Linked DNA regions of Homo sapiens. The protein of the gene in region 1 interacts with the protein of each later gene in a pairwise test. Each region holds a gene or a part of one and is shown on either strand. Other genes may lie near its edges.

What was found. The genes of interacting proteins can lie anywhere in the genome.
Region 2: the proteins of WFS1 (region 1) and GNE interact in binary tests that used the Homo sapiens proteins (3 or more experiments, as listed by UniProt).
Region 3: the proteins of WFS1 (region 1) and PPTC7 interact in binary tests that used the Homo sapiens proteins (3 or more experiments, as listed by UniProt).
Region 4: the proteins of WFS1 (region 1) and GPR89B interact in binary tests that used the Homo sapiens proteins (3 or more experiments, as listed by UniProt).

Annotation. Positions count from the first base shown.
Region 1 is NC_000004.12:6,295,786-6,300,849, reverse strand, and holds part of WFS1 (wolframin), read right to left. Parts: intron 194-5,064; coding exon 1-193. UniProt on the Homo sapiens protein: Participates in the regulation of cellular Ca(2+) homeostasis, at least partly, by modulating the filling state of the endoplasmic reticulum Ca(2+) store.
Region 2 is NC_000009.12:36,220,316-36,224,961, reverse strand, and holds part of GNE (bifunctional UDP-N-acetylglucosamine 2-epimerase/N-acetylmannosamine kinase), read left to right. Parts: intron 1-1,459; coding exon 1,460-1,589; intron 1,590-1,963; coding exon 1,964-2,185; intron 2,186-4,646. UniProt on the Homo sapiens protein: Bifunctional enzyme that possesses both UDP-N-acetylglucosamine 2-epimerase and N-acetylmannosamine kinase activities, and serves as the initiator of the biosynthetic pathway leading to the production of N-acetylneuraminic acid (NeuAc), a critical precursor in the synthesis of sialic acids.
Region 3 is NC_000012.12:110,576,686-110,581,331, reverse strand, and holds part of PPTC7 (protein phosphatase PTC7 homolog), read left to right. Parts: intron 1-4,646. UniProt on the Homo sapiens protein: Protein phosphatase that plays an essential role in mitochondrial metabolism and biogenesis. Positively regulates biosynthesis of the ubiquinone, coenzyme Q. Dephosphorylates the ubiquinone biosynthesis protein COQ7 which is likely to lead to its activation.
Region 4 is NC_000001.11:147,965,407-147,970,052, reverse strand, and holds part of GPR89B (Golgi pH regulator B), read right to left. Parts: intron 3,500-4,646; coding exon 3,390-3,499; intron 1,722-3,389; coding exon of another isoform or gene 1,666-1,721; exon of another isoform or gene 1,179-1,665; coding exon 1,090-1,178; intron 187-1,089; coding exon 94-186; intron 1-93. UniProt on the Homo sapiens protein: Voltage-gated channel that enables the transfer of anions such as iodide, chloride, bromide and fluoride which may function in counter-ion conductance and participates in Golgi acidification.

The DNA.
Region 1 (5,064 bases):
GGTAGAAGATGACCAGCGGGATGAAGAAGGCGAAGAAGTCGATGGTGAGGTTGCTGACGATGAAGAAGAAGATGAGCGCGTTGATGTGGTGCGTGGGGATGATGGTGGACAGCCAGTGCATGCCTGCCCTGGAGGCCATGTCAATCAGGTACTCCTTGATCTCCATGATGGCGTGCAGGGGGTACTTGACCACCTGGGGGAAAGATGGTACGTGGGAACGAGGCTGGGACAGGACCCCCACTGCTCCCATCTCACGCCTCCCTCTGACCACCCTGCCTCTGGGCAAAAGGAACCCGCACCCTTGCGTTTTCCCATCACCAGCCCCATCCTAGTGGTCCTCCCTCCCCCCTTCTCCAGGTGGCCCTCCCCATGCTCGCGGTCCCTGTGAGCCCTCCCTCTTCTGGGCCTGGAGCCCCCCTCTGCCCCGTGCCTGGCTCCCCACCTTCTACCAGCGTGACTAGATGCATGTGTGCTTCTCTCCCTGCAAGACCTCCAGCACTGGAGGGACCCACGGGCTCCCCACTTCCCTCCCCTCAGGGTCACCCACATGAAGAGATGACGGAGCCCTGAGATGCCTGTCTGGGAGCTGGTTTTGTGACCCAGCTCTGCACTACAGCAAGGATGTCACCTCCCTGAGCCTCCATGAAGGGAAATGGCGATCCTTACGAGGAGGAGAAGCCGCAGGCAGTCCCCGGAGGGGTGGCAGAGCAAGCATTAGGGAAAGGGAGTTCAGTGCAGACACAGGCAGAGGGCCCAGCACCACTCTCCCAGCAAAAATACCGTTCAGCTGCACGGGGCTGCCGGGTGAGCTGCCCTCCCTATGGCCGGAGACCCTGAGAAGCAGCTGCCAGGCCACCTTCTGCCCGTACACACACGTGCACACACACACACGCAACCCACCCCTACACACACGCATTCACACAAACCCACCCCATACACACACACACAACCCACCCCTACACACACACATGCAGCCCACCCCTACACACACGCATTCACACAACCCACCCCTATACACATTCACACACACGCAACCTACCCGCATTCAAACAACCCACCCCTACACACACATTCACACACACGCAACCCACCCCTACACACACACACGCAACCTACCCGCATTCACACAACCCACCCCTACACACACATTCACACACACGCAACCTACCCGCAAACAACCCACCCCTACACACACATTCACACACACGCAACCCACCCCTACACACACACGCAACCTACCTGCATTCAAACCCACCCCTACACACACATTCACACACACGCAACCCACCCCTACACACACATTCACACAACCCACCCCTATACACATTCACACACACGCAACCCACCCCTACACACACGTGCACACCCACCCCCACACGTGCACCCTCACACATGCACACCCACCCCTACACGTGTGCACCTACACATACACACCAGCGCACCCCTACCTCCCCATAGTCAAGGCCAAAGGCTGCCTTCCCCCGACCTGTGGGTCCTGCTCCCCTGCTCTGCATGCAGCGCTAAGGTCAGAAAGAGCTCTTGGCCTTCACCACAGCCAAGAGGAGCAGAGGGCTGAGGGAGGCATGCTGGGAGCAGCCTCAGGATGGGGTGAAGCAGCGCTGCCACCCAGGGCCAGCCCTCATGCCTTCCTGGTCTGTGCAGAACTCAGAGGCCCTGAGCCCTGCCAGAACACAGGGCAGCCAGGCAGAGGGACTGGAGGGGATGGGGGACAAAGTGGCCATGGTGCCAGTGCTCACACAGCATGGCGTGGCATACAAAGCAGGTTCTGTGCATCTTCAGAAGTGCCAGGGGCCTGGACCAACACCAGGAAGTGGACGCCTAGGGGGCGGCCCCACATGGGGGTAGGGAAGCCTGGCTGCATGTCCAGGGCCCACTGAGGGGCTACATGACACATCCAGGCTGGAGCCCCCCATCAGCTCCGGGCCTCGGGGAAGCACCAGACCCCACAAATCCCCTGGGGCAGGTTCTCTCCACCAGGCCCACCAGAAGGCCAAGGAGGGATCCCAGGTGAATGGCAACTAGGTGACAACACCAGAATGTGGCCCTCACCTGCCAACAGCCTGGCTATCAGCTCTGGAGGACCAGGACACCTGGAAACAACCAGAAGACTGAGTCTTCCACAGATGAGAGGAGAGGGGCAGGCTCATGGAGGAAACGGAAGTGTTATGAGTGTGTGCATGCATGTCTACACAGACTGAGCCTTCCACAGATGAGAAGGACAGGCTCATGGAAGAAACGGAAGTGTTTAGGAGTGTGTGCATGCACGTCTACACGTGGGGGAACAGCTCTGCTGCTTCATGTATATTTGTGACAGTCCACTTAATCTCTGTTTTATAACAAGCAAATAAACGATTAAAGCAGCTAACAGCTCCCCTAGCTCTCTCTGGGGTCAACAACCTTCTACATGAGCAGAGAGGCGCTCACACTGCCAGGAGATGGCCAGGGAAGACCAGGCACTACAGGGTTTGAGGGCATTTCCAACGCTTGCCAGAGAGCCAGAGGGCATTTATGAAAACCAACCTACTCCAGGGTTTGTTTGGGGCAAGCCCCTGTAGTATGACGCCAGGCCAGCTGGCTAAAATCAACAGCTACACGAGTCAACATGTGCGTCAGCCGGCAGGCTGCTCAGTTAATCCCCGTATGGGGGCCTTGCGAACAGCAGGACAACTAAAGGTGGCCTGGCCCGCCACTGCTCACCACCAGTTTCACGCACGACCGCCACGGTAGCAAGGGGGTGGCCTTGGTAAAAATAAATCTGAAATCCTGTCTTACTCAAAGCCATGCACATTCTTTTGCCTAGAACACACACAACCACCTGGTTGAGAGGGCCTTTAAAAGACAAGGAATATTCTAGAACATTACGTTGGATGGCGTCTAGCCTCTGCTTGGACAGTGTGGAGGGGCTGGTCCCCCACCTGAACTCGATGACCAGGGAACGATCCCCTTTTTAAAGCCCCAATTTCTGCTCCCTGCAATGTACACCCAAGACCTTCCTCTGACATGGGATTAAAAAGTTCAGTCTCCTTTTCTGCAAAGAAGGTCCAAACAAATTCAACTCCTGAGATGGAAAAAGAACGAAACTTAAAAACTATGAGGAGTCTGCCTCTATGAATAGAACACTGCAGAGCTCTCTGTCTGGGCCTGTGGTGATCGGCCCTTCTGCTGCCACGAGAAACCAGGAAGCAGCGTCACCACACCGATGGCCCAGCGGACCCGTGAAGAAGGCAGGCTGGGGAAGGGAGCCGAGACGAGATTCTGCTCAAACCTGTGGGCAAAAATGTTCCCGTGTCGGATCTTCCAATTATGTAATGTTAAAAATGTTACGATTTTAAGATATTAAGTTTGTTTTCAGAGGATTCTATCTACGATGACAGCTTGCACCTCCAGGCTCCAGAAGAGAACTGTGTGGAGTCTGGAACATTCTTTGTGGGAGTAAGGGTGGCTCACAAAGAGGTGTCTGTCATTTTCACTTTGAGTGAAGACCTCTCCTTGTTCTACAAAAGGCTACTAAAAGGTGGGACAGCTCTCAGCCCTGGGAGACGCTTGTGACGATTCATTGCCTCCCTCACAAGAGACTTCTAAGAAGACAAACTGCAAAGGAATCGAAGTGCTCTGACAGCATCCAAAACTAAAGGGAAACAGAGTCTTGTTTACTTCTTGTCAAAACAGCTTAAATCTCTCCCTTCTAAAAAGGACTTTCAGGCTGGATACAGTGTCTCACGCCTGAATCCCAGCAGTGTGGGAGGCCAAAGTGGGAGGCTCGCTTGACCCAGGAGTTTGAGACCAGCGTAGATAACAATAGTGAGACCCCCATCGCTACAAAATGTTTTCAAAAAAATCAGCTGGGTGTGGTGGCACATGCCTGTAGTCCAGCTATTTGGGAGGCTGAGGTGGGAGGATCACTTGAGTTTGGCACGTTGAGGCTGCAGTGAGCTGTGACCGTGCCACTGCACTCCAGCCTGTGCAACAGAACGAGACCCTGTCATTAAGTAACATAAATAAATAGGATTTTCAGATGCTACACAACACTAGACTCACCATCCATAACTAGGTGACATAATTTTCCGAACAGGACGCATATGCAAGGAGGCATTATTATAATAGTACTTACACCAGATGGCATAAACTGGGACACCTGGGCCATGGCCGCCTGGCCCAAGGGTCTTCTCCAAGTTAACCCGTTCACCTGTGACCCTCACTCTCATTTCGGGAGTGTCTTTGCCAAAACCATGCCAGCACCCCAGCTTCCTCATCTCCCATTAGTAAGGAGATGATGGCACCCAATCTGTGAATATGCTTGCCTAGGGCCAGCTCTGAGCAGACCATCAGTAAAAACCATGTGCTCCCTTGGTTCAAGTTCTTGGCCATCCTGGCCCATGTCTCAGAACCTCTGCAGACCGGTCGGTGTCATACCCTGGACATACAGCCTGTCCCAAGTGGGAGGAGCAGAGCCTTCCACCTGCCACCCTAAAGGACTCGCAGCTCTGGGCACTCGGGGGGCTCACACTCAGACCTGTCTGGCTCCGAGTCCCTGCAGCAGGGCTGCTGTGCCTGCTGCTCTTTGGGCTGAAGCTGCTCCTGCAGCACCTGGGTTCCTGCTCTTCCCCCCCACCGGAGGGCGGGCCTACTCTGACCTTCTCCCTGGCTCGAGGACGGTGACCTTTCAGCCTGCTGCCTGCCTGACAGTTGGTGGCCCAACCATCTCCTGGTCCTGGCCCTGACTCACGCGCCCATCTGAATACAATGATGGCAGTTCCTCCAGGTTCTCAGTCAGTTCAGAAGACAGAACCCCAGGGTGCCTGCATGATACTGCCCGCAGCCTCTGTGACAATCATCTGCTGGGGCCCCCTGTGCTGGCCTCAGCTTGGGGATCCTGGGTCAGGAGGCCAAGCTTCTGGAAATCCTGGTGTTCTCTGCAGAGTGAGACAGGCACACATCTAATTCAACCATGCGAGCTGAACTGTGAGCAACTCTGTGAGAGGCCATAGGGCCACATGGCCAAGAAAACAAGCTGTCAGGCCAGGAGTAGGGCCCGCACTGCTG
Region 2 (4,646 bases), on another chromosome or scaffold:
AAGAAAAAAGATAAAGACAAGTAATCAGGAGGGACTATCCCTGTTTGGTATTAAAACATATCAAAAAGCACAGTAATGTGTTTTATTTTTTTGAGACAGGGTTTCACTCTGTCGCCCAGACTGGAGTGCAGTGGTATGATCTCGGCTTACTGCAACCTCTGCTTCCTGGGTTCAAGCGATTCTCCAGCCTCAGCCTCTCAAGTAGCTGAGACTACAGGCGTGTGCCACCACGCCCAGCTAATTTTTGTATTTTTTATAGAGATGGGATTTCCTCTTATTGCGCAGGCTGGTCTTGAACTCCTGAGGTCAAAGTGATCTACCTGCCTCGGCCTCTCAAAGTGCTGGGATTACAGGCGTGAGCCACCACGGCCGGCCATATAATAATTTAAACAATGTGGTATTTCTGCCAGCCAGGATGGAAATTTACCCTAAGGAAATAGAGTATCCAGACCATCACTGAATTCAGTTACAGGAGATGATTAAAGCTCAGCTACTTAGTTGCCTCAGTGTTTTTTTGTTTTTGTTTTTGAGAAAGGGTCTCACTCTGTTGCCCAGGCTGGAGTGCAGTGGCGTGATCTCAGCTCACCGCAGCCTGAACTTCCCAGGCTCAAGAAATCCTCCCAGCTTAGCCTCCCAAGTAGTTGGGACTACAGGCATGTGCCAACATGCCTGGCTAATTTTTTGTAGAGAGGAGGTCTCACTGTACCTCCCAGGCTGGTTTTAAACTCCTGGGCCCAAGCGATTCTCCCGCCTTGGCCTCCCAAAGTGCCGGGATTACAGGCGTGAGCCACTATGCCCGGTCACCTCAGTAAGCAAGAAAGTTTTGTCAACCTGAAAGAGTAAACTATGGTCTTTTAATGAACTAGGCTCAAATTAGCGAACATTGAACTTAAGCTTAAGAAAGGGGCCCGGCCGGGGGCAGTGGCTCACGCCTGTAATCCCAGCACTTTGGGAGGCCGAGGCAGGCGGATTGCTTGAGGTCAGGAGTTTGAGACCAGCCTGGGCAGCATGGTGAAACCCCATCTCTACTAAAAATACAAAAATTAGCCGGGCGTGGTGGCAGGCACCTGTAATCCCAGCTACCTGGGAAGCTGAGGAAGGAGAATCGCCTGAACCTGGGAGGTGGAGGTTGCAGTGAGCTGAGATCGCGCCATAGCGCTCCAGCCTGGGCAACAGAGCGAGAGGCCATCTCAAAAAAAAAAAAAAGAGAGGGGCCCATCTTGCTGCCTGTGGAGTTGTCATTGCTTCAACAGCCCCATATTAGGACAGATTACAGGAACTACTTGAGCTTACCCCAGGGCTGGCCCAGACCAGGCAGTGGGTCCTTCCCCAAGCAGTCATCTAAGACTGCGGGGCCATCCTATAGCAGTGTCTAATTTGTCATGAAAAAGATCACAACACTCACAATATGCTGCTTAGCTAAGACCAGTAAGACGGAACTTGTTGTTTTCTCTTTTAGGGTGAAATAGTTAAGAAGTATACTCAGTTCAATCCTAAAACCTATGAAGAGAGGATTAATTTAATCCTACAGATGTGTGTGGAAGCTGCAGCAGAAGCTGTAAAACTGAACTGCAGAATTTTGGGAGTAGGTAAGATTGTAAATTATAAATCCAAGAAATGCTCATTTTAATGTACAAAATTTACTAACTTGTGATGCATGCCTGAGCATCAAGTCAGTGTCTGCCCTGTGCATAGATGGCTCTAGGTGCTGTCTGTGGGCCCCAAGCATGGGGACTTCCTGGGACACCAACAAGCATTAGGAGAGAAGCACTGACAGTTCTAGAAATCTTTAAGGTGCTATGGCTTTAATTCACAACTGTCTAATATTTCCTTGCAGTCCTTGGTAACGTTTGTCTTAGGAGATCTGGGGTGAATGAATCTGTGTTCTTAAGACAAGAAAGTCAGCATACTTTCCTGAGATTGCTCATCAGCATTATTTCCTTGTGTTTGTGGTGGAGCGCAGGCATTTCCACAGGTGGCCGTGTAAATCCTCGGGAAGGAATTGTGCTGCATTCAACCAAACTGATCCAAGAGTGGAACTCTGTGGACCTTAGGACCCCCCTTTCTGACACTTTGCATCTCCCTGTGTGGGTAGACAATGATGGCAACTGTGCTGCCCTGGCGGAAAGGAAATTTGGCCAAGGAAAGGGACTGGAAAACTTTGTTACACTTATCACAGGCACAGGTAAGAGGGGTAGGGGGAGGTTGGTTCAGGAGCTAGAATGTATATTGGAGCATGTCTTCAACATGGTCAGGTGGTTACAACTCTGCCTTAGCCTTCACTTCCTGCATGACTAGAGCCTGAAGGTGAGCCACATGTGGCCTTTTCTGAGCATGTGCCCAGCCTTAGACATGCCTGTGGCCTTCTAAATTCCAGGAACTTGTCAGAGCTATTCAAAGCTCTTATTTCCCAGAGCTTCTCATTTCCCAGCTTTTCCTCCCAGTCTTTTTGGTTAGTGTGTTGGATGCCCCAGCTGTTATCCTTTGCCCTAGACAGCACAGACTAATACATTTTACCTTGAAATGTTTTTTTTTTTTTTTTTGAGACGGAGTCTCGCTCTGTCGCCCAGGCTGGAGTGCAGTGGCGGGATCTCGGCTCACTGCAAGCTCCGCCTCCTGGGTTCACGCCATTCTCCTGCCTCAGCCTCCCAAGTAGCTGGGACTACAGGCGCCCGCCACTACGCCCGGCTAATTTTTTGTATTTTTTAGTAGAGACGGGGTTTCACCGTTTTAGCCGGGATGGTCTCGATCTCCTGACCTCGTGATCCGCCCGCCTCGGCCTCCCAAAGTGCTGGGATTACAGGCGTGAGCCACCGCGCCCGGCCGAAATGTTTTTGATAAACATCCTTCATGTAACCCCCTCAGCACTAGGATAGTTCCTAGTTAGTTAAGATGAAAGCAGGCCCTTTGAGGTGGTCCTCCAGGGAGGTGACAGGCAGGTCAAAACAAACAACCACAATTTTTTGAAAATAAGTTCGTCCTGCCCCGTCAGGTACTGGTATCCAGTACTGTTTCTGTACACCAGTACTGGGAGTGTGGACTGTTGTTCAAGGTCACCACCAAGCTGGAGAGTGGGTGATGGGACCAGGGTAGGTTACAACACCAGAAAGTTCTCTTATCAAGATTCAGCTGGTTTTGTTTTGTTTTTAGACAGGGTCTCACCATGTTGCCCAGGCTGGTCTTAAACTGCTGGGCTCGAGGGATCCTCCTGCCTTGGTCTCCCAAAGTGCTGGGATTACAGGCATGACCCACTGCACCTGGCCCTGGTTTTTGTTTTTCTTTTTTAAATTAAGCATTCCTCTGTTTGTTGCAAACTTTGGTTAGTTTCCAGAGTTCCAAAAAGGTTGATTCTGACATTTTTACCAGTTTTTTCCTCACTTTAGTGGCAGAATGGACCTTTGGAGTTCCCTGCTCTGTCATTTTTTTATGACATCCCAATTTGTTACTTTTGTTTTTTTACTCTATTTTATTTTTGTTGTATATATTTTAAGTGTATAACTTGATTTTTAAATGAGGAAACAGACTTAGCTAATAAGCGGTTAAGCCAGCATCTGATACAGATATGTCTAACTTCAAAACTTGTATGTGCTTAAACTCTACATTACACCACTATCCCTTTAAGCTCATGTACTTATTTATTTATTTATTTAAAGAGTGAGTCTCACTCTGTCACCCAGGCTGGAGTGCAGTCGCACAATCTCAGCTCACTGCCTCCCAGATTCAAGTGATTCCCCTGCCTCAGCCTCCCAAATGGCTGAGATTACAGGAATGTGCCACCACACCCGGCTAATTTCTGTATTTTTAGTAGAGACAAGGTTTCACCACGTTGGTCAGGCTGGTCTTGAACTTCTGGCTTCAGGTGATCTGCCCGCCTCAGCCTCCCAAAGTGCTGGGATTACAGGGGTGAGCCACCACACCCAGCCTAAGCTCATGTACTTTAGCTCATGCTCATCCTCTTTTAGTTCCAGACACAGTTTTAGCAAACTTGGATACCATTTCCTGGCTCAGAGCAGTGACTAAGCTGTAAATCAGAGGGCTAGGGGTTGAGGAATAAGTGCCCAAGAAGTGACAGATGGCAAGACAACCCTTAAAAGCAGAGCCTTCTCAGGCACAATACCCTTTACTCCTTTGTAACTGCTAAACGCCATAACAAAAGACAGTCACTGATATTTATAATTATTGAATCACAGATTTTTAGACATGGCAGCATCAAAAAAGGCAAAATCATTATTTCATATTTTCTGCTTCAGGAAGCAGGTAGTGTGTGATACATTTTAAAAGACTTATCTTGGGTATTCCTCAGAGCAGAGCCTGAGACAAGGATTTAGGTACAGGTATGGTTTTTTGGAGGTGACCACAAGAAGCAGGAGGGTGAGTGGGAAGAATGAAACAGAGCAGGAAGAAAGCCATTAAGGATATATTAACATTATTGAAGTTGACTTGAGGGCAAAGGGGGCTGAACTCCACTAGCACCTCCTAAGAAGCCTGCAGAACAGCATCCAGAATTGTCCTGTGGATCTGCCGGCTCCTGCCTTGCCTCGGTTGCAGGTTGCCCCTGGGTGCTGTGCCTGCGTGGCTGAGTAGGCTCTTGCTTCAGTGTTAGAGAAAGCCTTGGTGCAGAAAGATGGACAGTGTGTGCTGGGCCA
Region 3 (4,646 bases), on another chromosome or scaffold:
AGCGATTCTCCTGCTTCAGCCTCCCGAGTAGCTGGGATTATAGGCGCCCATCACCATGTCCAGCTAATTTTTGTATTTTTAGTAGAGATGGGGTTTCACTGTGTTGGCCAGGCCGGTCTCGAACTCCTGACCTCGTGATCGGCCTCGTGTTCGCCTCGGCCGCCCAAGGTGCTGGGATTACAAGTGTGAGCCTGGCCCCTGTGTTGCTTCTTAAAGTTGTGTTCATAACATAGGATAGGGGATAATGAGCCTCTAAGGTTCACCTCATAAATCTGTATGCTGGGCTGCGCGTGGTGGCTCACTCCTATAATCCCAGCACTTTGGGAGGCTGAGGCGGGTGGATCATGAGGTCAAGAGTTCAAGACCAGACTGACCAATATGGTGAAACCCAGTCTTTACTAAAAATACAAAAATTAGCCGGGCGTGATGGCGCATGCCTATAGTCCCAGCTACTCAACAGGCTGAGGCAGGAGAATCTCTTGAACCAGGGAGGTGGAGGCTTCAGTGAGCCAAGATCGTGCCACTGCACTCCAGACTGGGCGACAGTGCGAGACTCCGTCTCAAAAAAAAAATAAAATAAAAAATCTGTATGCGACTTTTGTGAAAGATCCGTGACTTGATTGATGATTTGGGGAGTATTTAAATGTATCAAATTCTATATGGAAGCTTGATTTTAAAATTTTGGAAGGCTAGACCGGGCGTGGTGGCTCACGCCTGTAATCCCAGCACTTTGGGAGGCGGAGGTGGGCGGATCACCTGAGGTTAGGAGTTCGAGACCAGCCTGGCCAACATGGCAAAACCCCGTCTCTACTAAAAAATACAAAAATTAGGCAGGTGTGGTGGCACACGCCTGTAGTCCCAGCTACTAGCGAGGCTGAGGCAGGAGAATTGCTTGAACCTGGGAGATGGAGGTTGCGGTGAGCCGAGATCACACCACTGCACTCCAGCCTGGGTAACAGAGCAAGACTCCGTCTCAAAAAAAATACAATAAAATTTTGGAAGGCTACCTTCTTAATGGAGTGGGATATTTACAAGAATTGGGGGGATTTTGGTCAAACCCATTCTAAAAAAGTATAAACATAATTTCATGCCCTGACATCCTGGTGGAAATCCAGTGAACTTTGATGCTCAGCTTTGCCACTTAGTAGCTCTGTGATTTGTGGTCTTGGGCAGAGTCTCTCTTGAGTCTCCTTTGGTTTATCTGGACTAGGGGATAAAGGGAATGGACGATCTGACCCTTAGTGACTACAGCTTCTGACCATCATATCACATTTTCTTTTGTTCTTTTCTTTTTTTTTTTTGGTGGGTGGGGGGTGCGGGTATGGAGTTTCGCTCTTGTTGCCCAGGCTGGAGTGCAATGGCGCCATCTCGGCTCACTGCAACCTCCGCCTCCCGGGTTTAAGTGATTCCCCTGCCTCAGCCACCTGAGTAGCTGGGATTACAGGCGCGCGCCATCACGCCCGGCTAATTTTTGTATTTTTAGTACAAACGGGGTTTCATCATGTTGGCCAGGCTGTACTCGAACTCCTAACCCCAGGTGATCCACCAGCCTCGGCCTCCCAAACTGCTGGGATTACAGGCATGAACCACCGCGCCCAGCCCATATTTTACTTTTGCTTTGAATAGATGGCACCCTTTGTTCTGCACCTCAAATGACAGGTGTCACGGGCACCTTCAGTAGATTCCTGTTTTGTATGTAGCACTAAACCAGTGGTTTTTAGCTTTCCTTGATTCACAACCCCTGAGGATCAGGACCCTGTGCACAGAGATAAAATTTTGCATGGGCTCTTAGGAACTTTGCTGACTCCATGACTCCTCTGATACCACCTGGAGGTCCATGCATAGGAATCAGATCAAGAACCCCAGCTCTGTACCCTTGAAGGGAATGCCAGCAGACACAGTCAGATACTGGTAGCTGATGTGACCAAAAGGTGGTTGTTAGCCATGTTTGACAAAGATCAAGCATGCACATATGCAAATGGTGGGGGATAGGGGCAGTGAAGGACAGGTTCTCCAGGACTGTCCTGTTGTGGAGGAGCTCTTCCGGACGGCAGTCTTGGAAGCCACCTGAAATAACTTCATGAGTTGGCCTCATTTGATCCTTGGCTGTCCTGAACCAGTTCATATGATGGTGACTTCTATTTAGTTGATACCGTAAAAGGTGATGACTTTTTTTTTTTTTTGAGATAGAGTCTTGCTCTGCCACCCAGGCTGGAGTGCAGTGGCACGATTTTGGCTCGCTGCAACCTCTGCCTCCCAGCTTCAAGCGATTCTTGTGCCTCAGCCTTCCGAGTAGCTGGGACTACAGGCATGTGCCACCTCACCCGGCTAATTGTTTGTATTTTTTTAGTAGAGATGAGGTTTCGCCACGTTGCCTAGGCTGGTGTCGAACTCCTGACCTCATGTCATCCACCTGCCTCAGCCTCCCAAAGTGCTAGGATTACAGGTGTGAGCCACAGTGTCTGGCTAAGGTGATGACTTTGAATGACTCTTTAATACTGCTGTCAACTCTAGAGGTTGGAGTTACAACCTGAATTACATTAAAAGGCTATGTTGAGTAATAACGTTACGTTGAACTTAAGTGCTTTTGAACCTTTTGGTTCTGTAGATAATTAATTTTCTTTGAATTGACACCATATTTATTACTGAGTATCCGTGTAACAGATTATTCACTGTGGTCATCTAGGACTCCTTGACTGGAATGAAAGCTGTTTCTTTCTTTTTATATGAGAAAGAGAAATCTCTTTTGTTTCTTTAATTTAAAATTGATCTGTCCTATTAGTCATGCAGTGACTAATAGTGCTTGGTGCTTCACAACATTTTGTATAGTCCCCACTGTATTTCGTTTCGGAAAAACTGACTATGTTGGGTGTGGTGAGACATAGGAACCACTCCTATCATTCTCTAGAAAATTGTCAAAGGTGCTTTCTCTTTACTAGGTCCAACAGGAGTAAACCAGTACTAGCGGGAGCCGTGTACACTTTTCTTGTTCCTTCTTCCCTGTGGCTAATTCTGAGTTCTCTTATTACTCTACGTGGCATGGCTTCCTAGGTGCACAAAAATATGAGAACTGCATGTTGTAATACCTGGGCTTCCCACAGCCTTATGCTACTTAACAATAGAATCAAAGACTGTTGAGAATTGTAACACTTAGAAACCTTGGAGTCTAGTTTTTTTCACCTCACTGATGAGAAAACAGGCCTCCAGAGAGTCAGATGACTTCCCCAAGGTTACTCTACTAGTTATTGGTGGAACTGAGGCTGACACCTATCTCAGTCTCTCATCTGAGACTCCCTTTCCCAGTCCTGTCCCCGTTAGACCACTGGTCAAGTTTTCTTGATGATATATGTGAATTAAAAACCAGTCAGTCTCCTGATACTTTTGTGCTTCGAATGCTTTTCCTGGGTGTGTGTGTGTGTGTGTTTATAACTTCTTTATTCACTCTGACTCATAACTGATGTGCAACAAAAACTCCTCTGCATGCTAAACCACAGTTTAGAGAAACCACTTATTTTAAAAATGGCAGCCTGGTCTGTGCCATATAAATTTTGACCTCTGAATATTGAGTTGTAAAGTATTTATTATGAAACTGTGGGATGTTTATTTAAGCTTAAACTTGAAACCTAAAAGTGAAATTAAAATAATTTCATATCCCAGCCTTTGGATCTGATTTTGATCGTGGTCAGGATTTTGAAGTGTTTTTGTGAGTAATGTCAGTCTTAAAAGTAGTTGTCTTGAGGTGTAAAGATCATATGAACAAAATTAAGATCTAAATTATATTTAGGAAGTGAATGGATGAGGTAGAATTTGGTGTTTTCAAACAGTCATGATCATTTTAATGTACTTATAGAACCTCTATTCTGAAAGTGAGTTGTCCTTTTAAAAAAGTAGTCACCTTCAGAGTGTGTGTGTGCACCCACTGACTTCAGTCTTTCAAGAAGTCCTTGTTGGAATTTTCCTCAGCTAGATTTCAAGCCATGTCAGGACACCACTCTCATTATATTACCATAATTTTTTTTTCTTTTTTTTTTTAATTTTACTTTTTTTAAATTCCAGGATACATGTGCAGGACATGCCATAATTTTCTTAAAGTCAGATTCCAGCATCATCTACCTGTTGATAGCAAATATGACCCTGAGTGAATTTTTTTTTTTTTTTTTTTTTTGAGACAGAGTCTCGCCCTTGTGCCCAGGCTGGAGAGCAGTGGCGCGATCTTGGCTCACTGCAACCTCTGCCTCCTGGGTTCAAACAGTTCTTCTGCCTCAGCCTCCCAAGTAGCTGGGATTACAGGCACCCACCATTACACCTGGCCAATTTTTATATTTTTAGTAGAGACGGGGTTTCACCATGTTGGCCAGGCTAGTCTCGAACTCCTGACCTCAGGTGATCCACCTGCCTTGGCCTCCCAAAGTGCTGGGATTACAGGCGTGAACCACGTGCCCAGCCCCTTGAGTGAATTTTTAAAAACTGATATGTATAATTCACATTCCATAGCATGTATCCTTTTAAAGTGTACAGTTCAGTAGTTTTTACATTCACAAAGTTGTACAGCCACTGCCACTATCTAGTTCCAGAATGTTTTTCATCACCCCCCAAGAAACCCCCTATCCATTAGCAGTCACTCCCCATCTCCCTGGCAACAGAAA
Region 4 (4,646 bases), on another chromosome or scaffold:
TTAGTTCAATATATCAGTCAAATCCATTCTTATCTCCCTGCCACTACCAGGAAAAAACATCTAAACTCTGATAATTAAAAATAACATACTTACCATGAAAATTTTCCAAACACAGTAAATAGAGAAAAAGTAACCAAGAAAATTAAAATATTTCCCCTTGAAGGTTTTGGAGTATTCTATTCTCTCCTGGGGGAAAACAAACACAAAACATAGTTTTCAGCAAAATATAAATTTATATTCAACACAAGTATTCTTCCCTCTATGAATCACTGTTCAGGTTCAGTCAAAAAACCATACATTGCAATAATATTAAACTAATAACAGTAGTTGTGGCCAGCATTTACTGAATGCTTGCTTTTAGCTAGAGACTGGGATAAACATCTTACATGCATTATCCACTTAATCTTCATAACAACTCTTATGAGATACGTTCTATTATCTTAATTTTACAGATGAGAAAATTGAGGCTTTGAGAGGTTCGATAACTTGCTCAAAGTCACACAGCTGGTGAGTAGGCTCAGGTTTATCTGTTTCCAAAGCCTATGTTAACCTCTGTCCTATAAGGTTACTCCTGTAAAGTTATCCTCAAAAAGAATTAAAAGTTTGCAATCTTCACTAACAGATTTTGCACATTTAAATTATATTTTATTTTAGGTGTACATAGGAAAGTTACTTCTTACAGTTTCGACACTTATTGATCTGGATCCTTTAAAATAGGGCTAGGCCATCCATGGCAGATAGGTGTCTACTGCTCTTATAATATTACTAACTTATAAAGGAATAAAAAGTAGCTACCATCTTTATCCCAGGTTAGTAGGAGGTGGTACGTGCCACCTTCCTAAATGTTGAAAAGCCTCTTCTGACTATCCCACCAATTGCTACTTTTGAGAGTGTTCCATTAAGGATTTTGCTAGTGACAGGAGCAATTTCATGAAGAGTGAAGATCCCTTATCCCTAATGCTTCATGGCTGATATAGAAGCTGTGAGGTATCTCTTGCTTGGCCACAGAGAAATCTAAAAAGCCATTTAGTCTTGTTCTCTCTTTAATAATATTGGTAAAAACCACACTTCAGTTTCCTTGCTCTGTACCTTGGTAGCATATAGATCAGCTGTTTCCAGAAAAAGCTGCCTGCTTAATTCTTCCAAAGCATCCACTTCCTGTTGAATAAGAGTAAGATCTGGCACAGAATGGGCATCAAGGTTTTAATCACATAGGAATTTCAAGAAATGGCAATGAGAAAGCATATACTTTTAGTTTTTCCTACAGTGGATTCCCGGAGTTGCCTATATTCTCAATTTCCTGTTTCATAGCCAGCAACACTACTTCAGAGCAACTTTCCCAACCTCTGACGCAGGTGTGTAAAAGCTTCTCCATCAAGAGCATCGCCACCAAACAATTACCACTCAGTTTCTCTTAAGTCAAGCAGCTCAAACAGATAGTTTCATTTGTTTTTTGATTTATCTAGTTAGATTAAGTCAAATGTAATGTTCAAGATTGTAAATAGTTACAGAATAATAACTATAATAAAGCATAGCTTTCTCCTACATTATCTGAATATAATGTTAGAAAAGGGAACTAATACTTTACTGTGTTCTAATATAGGCTAGGATTTACAGACATTACCTTATTTCTTTTCAAACATTATCTTCTTTTATATCTTATCTTCATGGGATTGTCTTATGCCATGGTGTTATCCATTTTGCACATAAGGAAAGTGAAGCTCAGAGAGTTAAATAACTTGCTCAAAGTCACACAATTAATTGATAGAGATGCAAAGTCAAATCCTCTTTTCCTCCAAAGCCTGCTCTTTCCGTTACACTATGTTATTTTCCAAGAACTCAATCAGGTAGAGTTATTATTCTCCCATTTAGAGAACAGGGGCTCAGGGAGGTTAAATAGTCCTGATATGTTTGTTAACTCATCACTAACACAGCTCAAACCCATATTATTGGCTTTTATGAACTTTTAAGTAATAAACATAGTAAATATAGCCCCTTCTAAAATAGAAGCACATACTTCAATCTAAATCCTCCCTCCTCTCTGATTTTTCCCACTATTACCCAAATCAGTAAGTGCCCTTCAGTTCCTTCCTTAATAGTGGCTACTACTGGCATGGTTCAAGCCACCAAACAATATGGTTTAACTAGTTACATGTCTGTCTCTCCCATGATTAGAGGGTAAGCTCCTTGAGGAGAAAGGCTATACTCTACTCATCATTTTATTTCTTAGCACTCAGCCTGGAAATAGGAGATACAAAATAAATGTTTCTTGGTTAAATAAATCTAAATTAATCCTTTTTCTTTCTCTTCCACAATCATCTTGCCTTTCTTTGATCTTATTCTTATCTTCATTTGACACCAGGACATAAATCATAATTTGTAGCAAGAATAGACATCCTTCTCTAATTGAGGCAAAAGGGAATTTGTATTTCCCTGGGACAGAGAAGGAAACAGGAGTATGCTATCTCATGCTTAGTTCCCCAAAGTTTTGACCTAATAGCACCAGAGCCACACAGAAATTTGGTTACATAATTTGGGAAGTAGTTCAACATCATAACCAATCAGGAAAGAACAATTTATTAATCTATTAATCAAATCTCCTTTATCCTTTCTTTTTTATTTTGAGACAGGGTCTAGCTCTGTTGCCTAGGCAGGAGTGCAGTGGCGTGATCTGGGCTCACTCCTACCTCAGCCTCCCAAGTTCAAACAATCCTCCCACCTCAGCCTCCTGAGTAGTTGGGATTACAGGCACATGCCACTGGGCCTGGCTAATTTTTGTATTTTTTGTAGAGATGAGGTTTTGTCATGTTGCCGAGGCTTGTCTTGAACTCCTGGGTTCAAGTGATCTGCCCACCTCGGCCTTGCAAAGTGCTGGGATTACAGGGATGAGCCACTGCGCCCAGCCTCCCCTTGATTCTTTAAACCAAAATGTCACTGGAGAAGCAGAGCTACTTAAAATTTGTTTAGGAATACTAATTACTTTAGAAATGGGCCATTTATTTTAGGTAGCCATTATGCTTTATGGTGGTTTTTCAGAGTTGAGAAATGTAATAGTGTAGTGGAAAGAACTATGAAGAGGAGACCACAGTTATGTTTCTAGCTTTGCCACAAACCACCGTGTGACTTAACCTCTCTGGGTCTATTTTCTCATCTGTAAAATGGAAAGGCTGACTTTTTAGGACCACTTCAGCTCAAAGACAATGATTTTATGATATTGTGCAGGTGCTGGAAAGATGACTGTACACATGGTATTTCCTAAGCCTAGCTCTTAGGAGTTTGGACTCTGATGTAGTCAGGTACCTTAGAAGGGACTATCCCAACACTACTTTTTTTCTTTTGCTCTTGGTCCAGAGTTGAGAAAAAGAATCAAGCAGAGGGACAAAGGATACTTTCACTTCCTGATGCTGAAGTGGTAACACTTTTTATCATTCCCCAGAAACCTGATGGTTTGTTATGCACTTCCCCCTTCTGGAACATTGTTCTCCGTGCCATTGCCATCCTGAAATGAAAGAAAATATAAAGCCTCAGCAAGCAAGCATGGACCCTCACAGTCTAGTCCCATCCATTTTCCAGTCTCACAACTGCCTCTCATGTACTGAGCTGTTTATGTAAGGATACTGATTCTGGAGTCCTACTTTTCTACTACTTACAACTGAAGGGAAACTATGTGGAAGCAATGTGGCCTGGGTGAAGAAGCACAGAATTTGGGCTAGGCAATAAATTTGAGGACTGGCTCTGCTATTTGGAAGCTGGGAGGTCTTAGAGTTTTCATCTCCTCATATCTGGATGGTTGTGAAGATAAATGAAATAATACATATGAATTCATGTTGTCAACTACAAGGCGCTATACATAGTTTAATTACTACAGTTACCATTTAAAGACAAAATAAAACAGCTAACATACCTGGCTGGGTATGGTGGCTCACTCCTGTAATCCCAGCACTTTGGGAGGCCGAGGCAGGTGGATCACCTGAGGTTGGGAGTTCAAGACCAGCATGGGCAACATGGTGAAACCCCATCTCTACTAAAAATACAAAAATTAGCTGGGCGTGGTGACCCATGTCTGTAATCCCAGCTACTTGGGAGGCTGAGGCAGGAGAATCGCTTGAACCTAGGAGGCAGAGGTTGCAGTGAGCTGAGATCACGCCACTGCACGCCAGCCCAGGTGACAGAGTGAGACTCCATCTCAAAAACAAAACAAAAACAAACAAACAAAAAAAAACAGCTAACATACCTAACTAAAGGACCAAATACAGAGTTTGGAACGCAATACATGTTTTCTTCCTTCTTTTTCAAAGGCAGACAAAAGGAAAAAAAAATAGCAAAATTGCATAAACCTGTCCCCTTCTAAAATATCAGTCTCTAAGTCCAATACCCTCACCTTCTGTAATCTGTCCTACAGGTGAATAAGTCAACAGGAAACCTACCACTCCTGGTCCTCTCAGTCTGTGGAGGACCGACTAGTACAGTGGTAGCTGCTGGCATGTCCCAGCTCACCACAAAGGTATCAACAGGGTCCTAGTGAGGATCAAAATAAAAGATCATTTGTACATAATTGATTTAAAGGGTTTAATGGGCCAAGGCCTACAGGCATAAAATGAACTAGGATGAGTCTAATAAAAATAGAGTAGCAGGACCAAAGAAAA